Regions from separate parts of the Homo sapiens genome. Here region 1 is linked to region 2. Evidence: fine-mapped QTL for protein levels in blood plasma. Region 2 holds a variant in brackets. A gene starts in the other region. All regions are shown on their forward strands.

Evidence for each region. PIP is the chance, under the fine-mapping model, that this variant and not a neighbour inherited with it causes the effect. Protein levels are from antibody-based Olink assays in UK Biobank. Linkage for the fine-mapping came from a reference panel and not from the study's own genotypes, which makes the PIPs less certain.
Region 1: it holds the start of CLEC4C, and the variant in region 2 is fine-mapped to the plasma level of the CLEC4C protein (UK Biobank, PIP 0.98).

What each region holds. Positions count from the first base shown.
Region 1 is chr12:7,744,961-7,750,336 of GRCh38, forward strand. It overlaps CLEC4C (C-type lectin domain family 4 member C), which reads right to left and starts at 2,415. Exons shown (of 6, transcript NM_001371390.1): 1 at 2,358-2,415; 2 at 1,371-1,463. The coding sequence starts at 2,388. RefSeq lists enhancers at 4,191-4,270, 4,291-4,470, 4,651-4,730.
Region 2 is chr11:121,334,551-121,339,926 of GRCh38, forward strand. No RefSeq gene overlaps it. Among named protein-coding and RNA genes, the nearest start is that of SC5D, 44 kb to the left of the region's middle. RefSeq lists a silencer at 3,089-3,178 and an enhancer at 3,759-3,908. The variant C/T (reference allele first, on the strand shown) is at 2,183.

The sequences.
Region 1 (5,376 bases), not on the chromosome of region 2:
CCCCACAGTAATACAATTATAGCATCATAGAAAGAATAATAGTTATGTTCCCAATAGAGACTTTTTTAAAACAAAGGAGCAGATCAACTAGATGGTACCCACCATCAGCACACCCATCAAAGTGGAGTTATTGTTATAGAATGAATTGCGTCCTCCCCAAGTTCATATATGGAAGTCCCAAGCTCCAATTTGTGGTATTTGAAGATAGGGGCTTTGGGAGGAAATCAGGTTTAGATGAGGTTATGAGGGGGGGCTCTCATGGTGAGATGAATGCTCTTATAAGAAGAAACCGTGACGAGCTAGCACTCCCTCCATCATGTGAGGACACAGCAAGAGGGCATCAGCTGTAAGCCAGGAAGAGGGACCTCACCATACCCAACCATCCTGACATCCTCATGTCAGACTTCCAGCCTCCAGAACCATCAGAAAATAAATATCTGTTTTTTAACTCACTCAGTCTATGCTTTTTTTTTTTTTTTTTTTTTTTTTTGAGACAGAGTCTCACTCTGTCACCCAGGCTGGAGTGCAGTGGCGTGATCTCGGCTCACTGCAACCTCTGCCTCCTGGGTTCAACTGAGTCTCCTGCCTCAGCCTCCCAAGTAGCTGGGATTACAGGCGCGAGTCACTGCACCCAGCTAATTTTTGTATTTTTAGTAGAGACAGGGTTTCACTATATGGTCCAAGCTGGTCTTGAACTCCTGACCTCAGGTGATCTGCCTGCCTTGGCCTCCCGAAGTGCTGGGATTACAGGCATGAGCTACCACGCCTGGCCCAGTCTATGGTATTTTGTTATGGCAGCCCAAGCTGACCAAGACAGTTATGATCACATTTGAAAAATGCAACTAAAACCAGGCAAAGAAACCTGGAAGTACACACAATTATCCAGAATAATTAATAATAGTAATAACTCATTTTATTAGAAACATAGCCTTCTCAGTTAGGGTTGCCATTTTATGTCAAGAAAGGGGAACGTGGCCGGGCGCGGTGGCTCACACCTGTAATCCCAGCACTTTGGGAGGCCAAGGTGGGCGGATCACGAGGTCAGGAGATCGAAACCACCCTGGCTAACACAGTGAAAACCCGTCTCTACTAAAAATACAAAAAATTAGCCAGGCATGGTGGCGGGCACCTGTAGTCCCAGCTACTCGGGAGGCTGAGGCAGGCGAATGGCATGAACCCGGGAGGTGAGCTTGCAGTGAGCCGAGATCACGCCACTGCACTCCATCCTGGGCGACAGAGCGAGATTCCGTCTCAAAAAAAAAAAAAAAAAAAAGAAAAAAAAAGAAAGAGGAACGTGTTTCTTCAGGAAATTGATAAAATGTGATTGGGAAAAGGACCAAGAGATGACTGCACTCCAGCCAAGAACTTACCCACAGAACTCACAGTGAAACAGACACTGAGGAGCAAGATGGATACGACTGCCATGGACCAGACCTTCAACTGGAACCACCAGAGTCCTTTCTCTGTCAGATCAGCATGACAAATGCACAGTCATAATCCCCACTGCCAAAGAGCCAGGAAACCAGAGTCCCAAAAATCTTAGAATAATAAAGTCAGGCTATGATCAAAACTAATTAAAACAGAAAAAATGTGAAAGCAAAAAGAGATTATAGAAATTATCTCAGAACAAATGACCAGATAGTACCCTGGAACCCAAGACAAATCCAGGCAAAACTCTCAGAGTAAACTGTACTTTCCAATTCCTTACTCTCTTTTCCCTTGAATTGCACAGCCTTGGCCTCAAACTTCCAGGCTTAAGTGGTCCTCCTGCCTCAACCTCTGAGTAGCTGGGACTTTAGGCATTTGCCTGCATGCCTGGCCAAATTCATATTCCTTTAAGGCCTTCTAGGCCCGAGTTGTTTTTCTTTTTTTCTTTTTTTTGAGATGGAGTTTCACTCCTGTTGCCCAGGCTGGAGTGCAATGGCACGATCTCGGCTCACTGCAACCTCCGCCTCCCAGGTTCAAGTGATTCTCCTGCCTCAGCCTCCCAAGTAGCTGGGATTACAGGCATGTGCCACCACGCCTGGCTAATTTTCTATTTTTAGTAGAGACAGGGTTTCTCCATGTTGGTCAGGCTGGTCTCGAACTCCTGACCTCAGGTGCTCTGCCCACCTCGGCCTCCCAAAGTGCTGGATTACAGGCGTGAGCCACCGCGCCCGCCCGGCCTTTCTTTTTTTCTTTCATCTTTCCCTGATCCAAGTATCTTGGGTCCATACCTGTTTCCATACTGAAATTACTATTATTTATGAAAAGCTGTCTACTTCTTCTTCCAAAGTCATCCCTATCACCTCAATGCCTGTTTCCCACTCCATCCTGCTCCTACTACCTTCCCTAGAACTGAGAAGATGAGTGCTTACCTCGGTCTTGAGGCTCTTCTTCAGGCACCATTGTGTGTGCGCACACCCTTTGGACTTCCTCTATCAGGTGGGTGCAGAAGCTCTTGTATCACTTTCTCCAAAGATGTTACTTTCGGGGTGTGGTTCTTTCAAACAAGCCAAGCCCTTAGATCCTTCTTCGCCTACTCTTGCAAAGGAAGAGATGTGACTTAGGAGACTCTGCAGTGAGCTAAAGCTTTCAATTTAAAACATACATCATGTTCAGAAATAAGGAAACACAAACAAGGAAATCGAGAAATACATGAAAAACAGTTCATGGTTGCAGGTCTGATTGTCTTTTTTTTTTTTTTTTTTTTTTTTTTCTAGACAGGGTCTCACTCTGCCACCCAGGCTGGAGTATAGTGGTGCAATCTCAGCTCACTACTACCTCTGCCTCGCGGGTTCAAGCGATTCTCCTGCCTCAGCCTCCCGAGCAGCTGGGACTACAGGCATGTGCCACCATGCCCAGCTAATTTTTGTATTTTTAGTAGTGACAGGGTTTCATCATACTGGCCAGGCTTGTCTCGAACTCCTGACCTCCTGCCGTTGCACTCCAGCCTGGGCAACAAGAGCAAAACTCCATCTCCAAAAAAAAAAAAAAAAAAGCCTCTTTCATTTGTAAATTGCCCAGTCTCAGGTATGTCTTTATCAGCAGTATGAAAACGGACTAATACAGCCTCCCAAAGTCCTGGGGTTACCGTTGTGAGCCACCACGTGCCCGGCCACTGCTGAGTAATCTTAAATAGAGAAAATCCATTATAGCCTATGCTACTCAAATGGAGATGTTTGGTTGAAGGATGGTTACAACTACTGGTGAAATAGACACTGAGAAAGAAAGAACCTAGGTATTCCAGAATCTTCCCAGAGTTCAACTGAGATTTAATTGTAGAGTAGTGAGAAAAAAGTTTTGAGCTGGGCACGGTGGCTCATGCCTATAATCCCAGCACTTTGGGAAGCTGAGGTGGGCGGATCACGAGGTCAAGAGATCGAGACCATCCTGGCCAACATGGTGAAACCCCGTTTCTACTAAAAATACAAAAATTAGCCAGGTGTGGTGGTGCATGCCTGTAGTCCCAGCTACTCAGGAGGCTGAGGCAGGAAAATTGCTTGAACCCGGGAGGCGGAGCTTACAGTGAGCCGAGATCGTGCCACTGCACTCCACCCTGGGTGACAGAGCAAGACTCAGTCTCAAAAAAAAAAAAGTTTTGAGTTAGCAGCCATCCTTTGAGATATTTTAGGACCCAGACCAATGAGATCCTTTCTAAGCTGTATACTTGCTGAAACAACTTAAAGTCCTGTTTGGTCTCTTGTCTACCTCCCATTTACAGTTCCCTGAACCTCCCTCTGCCCCTGCCTCAGGGGTTCTCCCTGTTGCTTTCCTCTGTCTTGGATTAAAATGTAGAGTATGAGGGTATTCCTTTGAGTATACAATGCTGAGAAGAAAGGAGCAAAGGCAAAAATGAGAAAAATAATTTAAAATAGAACAAATTATAAAAGCAGAAAGAATGACAAATTATTTTCTCAGAAGAAAAGCAGAATTGCATGTAGGCCCAGCTCAGGTGACATCCCAGCAGAATGCTTTGAGTATGACCAGAGTATTGCAAAAGCTACAGCTGAAGAGGATAAATCTAGATAAGAATTGGTAGATGGTTTGCTCACTACTTCTTCCCCCGGTTGGTGAGGGAGGGAGTCCCAACCCAGGGTTATGGGTGGCTGGACACACAACACCCGACACTGGACAGATAAGACTGACAGCAGTTCAGCTGCATGTACTCACGGCCTGAGGCAGGAGGGCACCGCACACCATGCAGGGTCAGACAGAGGTTGCACTTGGGAGCAGGGTGACTGTGGGAGGCAGGATCTGCTGTAACAAGAGGGTGAGGTGGCCCCTTGGCTCTTGAGGGAGGATGGGATTGGCTTCTTTAAAGAATTTTGTGGCCAGGTGTAGTGGCTCGTGCCTATAATCTCAGCACTTTGGGAGGCTGAGGTGGGCGGATTGCTTCAGGCCAGGAGTTCAAGACTAGCCTGGCCAACATAGTGAAACCCCATCTCTACTAAAAATCCAAAAAATTAGCCAAGCATGGTGGCACACGTCTGTAATTTCGGCTACTCAGGAGGCTGAGGCACGAGAATCACTGGAATTTGGGAGGCAGGGATTGCAGTGAGCCGTAATCGTACCACTTCACTCCAGCCTGGGTGACAGAGTGAGATTCTGTGTCAACGAAAAAAAAAAGAGAAAAAAAAGATTTTGTGGGCCTTCAGGGAAGTGAAATCTATTAGCTTGAGGACCAGGTGGAGTGCAGCTGGCCCAGCTGAGATGGAAACTGGCTGAGTGAGAAACAGAAATATTTTTTTTTTTTGAGATGGAGTCTTTCTCTGGTCACCTAGGCTGGAGTGAGTGCAGTGGCTAAATCTTGGCTCACTGCAACCTCCACCTCCCGGGTTTAAGCAATTCTCCTGCCTCAGCATCCCGAGTAGCTGGGACTACAGGCATGCGCCACCACGACTGTCTAATTTTGTATTTTTAGTAGAGACAGGGTTTCTCCATGTTGGTCAGACTGGTCTTGAACTCCCAACCTCAGGTGATCCGCCCACCTCAGCCACCCAAAGTGCTGGGATTACAGGTGTGAGCCACAATGCCTGGCCATTTTTTGTTTTTGAGACAGGATATCAGTCTGTTGCCCAGACTGAAGTGCAGTGTCTCGACCTTCACTCACTGTAGCCTTGACCTCCTGGGATCAAGTGATCCTCCCACCTCAGCCTCCCGAGTAACTGGGACTATAGATACACGTCATTACACCTGGGGATCTTTTAAATTTTTTTTGTAGAGACAGGGTCTCGCTATGTTATTTCCCAGGCTGATCTCGAACACCTGGGCTCAGGTGATCCTCTTGCCTTGGTCTCCCAAAGTGCTAGGATTACAGATGTAAACCAGCATGCCTGGCCGGTGATGCTCTTTTAACATGAGTACCCAGTGTTTGGAATCAGGACAGGGCATCAG
Region 2 (5,376 bases):
CAGCACTTCAGAGAATAAGAGTTGAAGCCTATAAAGCTGTGAGGAAATTCTGTTAATTATCGAATTGTAACTTTTCAGTAGAGGAAGTCACTTGATCTTTTCAGCCGACTCTGGGAAAAGCAACACATCTATTTAATGCTGACCTTAGATCACCTCTTCATTCAGTACAATCGTTCCTCACCTCCCCAAAGAGACTTGCTTGCTTGGGAAAAATCAGCCTCTAGATTGCTGGGAGCTTTGTGAGTTTTTCTTCCCTCTCTGCAACCTGGTTCTTCAAGTTAAAATAAAAATCACAGCCCTGGGAGGAAAGGAGGGCACATAAATAAGGTGGCTGAAGCTGATGAAAGGGACTCTGTAAATAAGGGGACATTTTATTTGCCAAGTTGCCATAATAAAACACAGGTTTCCGAGTGTTTATCTGTTAACAATTTTAATAAAAAATGTTTCTAATACATGCACATATATAACATTTTTAGAAAATACATAGAAAAACAAGAAAGATAAACTGATTACCATCCCATGAAAACCACTATTCATATTTCAGGGTTCAGCCTTTCTCTGGGTCTCCCCACCTCTGACAGTCTCTCCATCCCTCACTATCTCTCCCTACCTCTTTCTCTGTCTTGCTCCCTCTCTCGTGCAGAACTGGAATCACAAAGTACATAATGTTCTGAACTTGATTTTTTTTCTTCGTTATTTGGAAGAAATATTTTTTCATTTTTAAACACACACAGCCATGAGAGGATGATGCGGCTCAAAGCTCTTAATTCAGGAGTGTGTTTATGTGTAGCCCAAATACTTATTGAGTGCCTACTGGGTACTAAGCTCTATGCTGGGCCTTCATGTGGTGAGAAAGACCTGGTCTGACGGAGCTTACAGTCCAAGGGGAGGATGGCTGCTAAATGATACCCAGCAGAGAAACTGCTTCTGCAAAGTGCCTGCCTGGATACTTTGCTGGATGGTGTTGGCCCAGAGCCAGCAGCTTTAGGGCTGCCTGCGGAAGGTCCCCACAACTGAGGTTTATTATTATTATTTAGTTTGCTGGTGAGACACACACAGAGTCTGCACAGCATCTGGCTGCGGGGTGGATTATGGTTAGCCAAGGGTTCCTTTTTATGGATGACTGCGGTAGTGAAGTTGCAGACTTACCTCCAGCCTCCTCAATTTCTGATGGGAGGCCTGAGTCTGACAAATAGTCCCGTGTCCTCAGTCCCCATCACTCTAGCCCCGTTGGAAGCTGGCCATTGCTTCTAGGCACCAGCCCGAAAGAGAGGAAGACTAATACTTTTCAGGCTGCCCAGCCATAGCCTGTAGAACAGGGGCCAGGGGAGGGCACAAGAGAGAATTCTAACCACCAGCCCACTGATGTCCACCTCTGATGGCCAGTGGAGATGAGTGAGCATCCAGGGCTGCAGGACCTTCTTGTGTGTGTGCTTGGCCCCACTACCCCTTTCTTCTTTGTAAGGGGCTCAACACAGCACCATACACAACTTCAAAACTTGATAGGGTAATTTTTATCTTAAAAGAAATCCTGAGAAGTAAAGGTTCTGAGCTTTGTAGAGAAAGTAAATAAAGTGTAACATTCTGACCCTCAGAGCTAAAGGGGTTGTTATAGAGCTATACCAGGAGCTAGCCTTTAATAAAACCTCCCTTGAAATTGTGTTAGATGTACTAAGTCCCGCTTTCATCTAATGCTTCCTCTTTGGGGTATTAGCCAGGTTGAGGATAAGCAACAGATGCCCACAGGCTTCCCATAAAGAATGTCAGTCATTGGACCTGAGTTGCACTGCTGACTATTCTCAGGCTTGTGGTCCACCACAGCACCTGATTCTTTTCACCTAAGTATGCAGCCAGCTCTTTTCCTGCATTTGTGCAATTGAGTTACTCTACTTGCATCTGTCCCAACTGAACAGCATATGATGGTTTCTGACTTACCACTTCTCCAATATAATGGACCAATTGAACCACAAAGAATGCCCAAATGGCAGCTGCCCTAGATTAATGGGTGTGTGTGGGTATTCTCCCTAAAAATAATGAGAGCTCATGTCTGTGGGGGCTCTGCAGTGAGAGCAATAATTTCAAAGCTGGATATCAGCAGAAAAACTAATGAGACCATTTAAAGTGTGTGTTAATGTGGTATGTGTGTAAAATTAACAACCCTTTGATAGCTAAGCCACAAACA[C/T]CCTCCTGAGGTCAATCTGGAAGTCACGGCGAAGACTGGCTCTGTGGGGCAGTGTGCCAGATGTGAGTAGGAAGGCCCTGGAGCCCGGAGATGACCCAGCTGCATCTTAAAAATTAATATTGTGTTAAATTAGCTCCCATGTAAATGCCATTTTGTAACAGCTGCCTGGCCTATTCGTGGGAGCAACAGCAGTCGGGAGCACACGGGGTCCCACTTCGAGACCATCTTCCTCCTTTTGATTAATCAGTACCAAACACTAATAGCAAAACTACCACCTAAATAACACCTGTAGCTACCACTTATTGAGTGCTTAGTGTGTGTCACACTCTGCACTAAACGCTTTGCACACGTGGCTTGTCTAATTCTTCCAACATCACTGTTGAGTACTGCTGGCGTCCTATTGAACAGATGTAGAAACTGAGGCTCTGAATATGACATGCCCAGGCTCACAGGCAAGTGGGTGAGCTGGGATTTATTACCTGGGTCTGACTGACTCAAACAGGTCCCATAAAGCATGTCAGTCATTGGAACTGGGTTGCACTGCTGAGTATTCTCAGGCTTGTGGTCCACCACAGCACCTGATTCTCTCTTAACTTGAAGAGTGTTCATCCTTTTTACAAATAAGTGGTGAGCTTCCTTCACAGAGATGTGTGTATTGTGGAGGTAGTGGATGGAGGGGTGTTTCTCTTGCAACCAGAGCCCAGAAATGTTGTTTCCAATCAAAGGATTGATATCTGTTCTGCTGGAAGGCTGGGTTGGAGGCATCTGCATTTTGGTTTAGAAGATCTACTCCTAACCCTGCTGCCAGCAACAGAACATAAGGAGAAGAAGGAAGCTCTTGTTGAAAGGCAGTTGAGGAGTAGGAAAAAAGTCTTACAGAAATGAATCATCTCCACAGGACATCTGAGCATCTGTTCATTGCCCAGCACTTTCTGAACTAGTCTGGACCAGAGAAGAGGCATCTGTGACTTTATCCAAATGGCCTGGTGTCCTGGGGAATGGGAAGCCACCTATACTGGCCACGCCTCCCACATGTATTATAACTCCACCACCTGCCCTCCCCTCTTCCCCATTCCAGGGACCCCTGAGGGGTCAGCAGGGATGCCCTGCTGGAGTGTGTTCCCCAGGGCACCTTGGGGTGAAGTCCTGATACATACTGTCTCATGTTGCACAAGTCACACTGAAGCCAGCCTCTGCCAGCAGAGAAGTGAAGGCCTTTCAGAAACTATCAGAAATCCAGCCAAGAAATCCATCGCGTCCCTTTGAGAGGGGAAGAAAGAGAGGCAGTCAGTTGACAAGGAAGGAAAGCTCCTGGCAAGAAGCATAACCCAACTCCCAGTCCCAGGGTAGAAGGGAAAGAGAAAGAATTAAGAAAGAAATAGTCAGCAACTTATGTTCCTTTCTATTTTCACAAACAAGATCTGCTGACTGACCTTTCAGATCAGCTGGGAAATGATACCGCACACGGAGCATGCAAATAGGACCCACTGTATTTCCCTGACACTCTGCGCCCTGCCTGCTCCAAGACCCCAGAGAGACCCTGGGGACGCCTCAGTTACAGTAGAAAATCCCAAATGAGCACAGCCTGGCTGGGGAGCCAAGATGGGGCCAAGAATCAAGATTCAGTATCAGGACGGCTCTGGGGCCGTGGCTAAAATGTGTTCTGGGGCATGAATCCTGGTTGCTAAGGTGACAGGCCCAACACCTCATGCTAAGGACAGGACGATGCCCGCTGTGCCTCAGTTGGAAAAGGGGCTTGCCAGTGCCAGATCCCAGGAATGCAGGCCACTCAGCTCCTCCCTCTCTTGAAAGCATATAAAGGGCAAATGGCCCTCCCAGCCACCAGATAAATGTCTGTTTGTCCTTGGGGTGTATTTCTTTTTTAGCAACCTGAACCATCTTCGTCATCTTCAAACTCCAATGCTATTCAACACCCTCCACAATCTAGCCGAAAATTAGTCTTACAGTCCGCCCTGTGAAATAGCCGATCTGAACTGTTCACCGCTCTCAGACCTCCCACCAAACTTGCCATGTCTTTGTTCGAACCATTCTCCGTGCCACGCTTGCCCACCTCCTCACCTCCTTTTAGCTAATACAACCCTACCAGTCCTCCAAAGACCCGCTCGAATGCCACCTCTCTGACGATGCTGTCCCTCATTGTTCCAGCCACAGGTTGTCTATGAAATTTGGGCAGCACCCCTCCTGTGGCTCCTCCCACATACTAGTATACACAGTGGATATTTGTGCGGTTCTCTCCCTTTACCATATTAAAAGCTCCATGTGTTTAGGAAACTGTCTCTTATACTGTCTGTCTCCTGTTCCCTTCATCAGCTAATCCAATACAATGTCGCTATTCCCTTTTCATTGTTCTATCTCATTCCAGCTCCCACCCTTTAAATATGGTGTTTCTCGATCCTGCTCTGAACAATGATCTGACTTTTTTCTGGCCTGGTAGCCTCTGCAGATTCTGGTATGTTTAGAACTACACTTTGGAAGCTTAGTCTGAGGGCATCGCCTGGGAAGGAACGGTGTTGGGGAGAAAATTGGTCCACAGTGTTGCACTGTGCATTCAGAGAGATGTTCATATAAATGGTGCCCCATGAATCATGCAACACGGCTGTGCAAAACAGAGAAGAAGCTGAAAGATGAGTGAAGGGGCTTTTTCAACAACCGAGGCAAAAATCAAATGTAACCCCGGGAAATGGGAAGAAGAGAACAAGTACAAGTGACACCGTAAAGGAAGAAGCAATAAGACATGAGACTCTAAGGGTCCTTTGCTATTTCCTACTTACCTATTATCCATCCCCCCACACCTCTTCTCATACAGAATTCTGATTGCTCTTCCTTTGAGGGACCACCTTTACCATTCACAGGCCATGTGGCTTGAGTGGTGAATGTGATCACCACTGGCCAATGAGATCACCATATCCCCATGAGGACAGGTTTGGAGTAGGCATGTAACCTAAGTCTGGGCAAATAAAAGTTTTATCTGGGACTTTTTTTGTTTTTTTTGTTTGTTTGTTTTTTCCTTTTTAGGCTAGTGTAGCCAAGCTAGAGAACCTTTCAAGAATGAAAAAAAAAAGAAAAAAAAAAGACAAAGACAGCCTTTCCAATCATGTGAGCCAGCCTATTTTCTTTTGGCTCAAATCAGTTGGACTGGATTTCTGTAACACGCAATTGAGAGTCATGGCTAA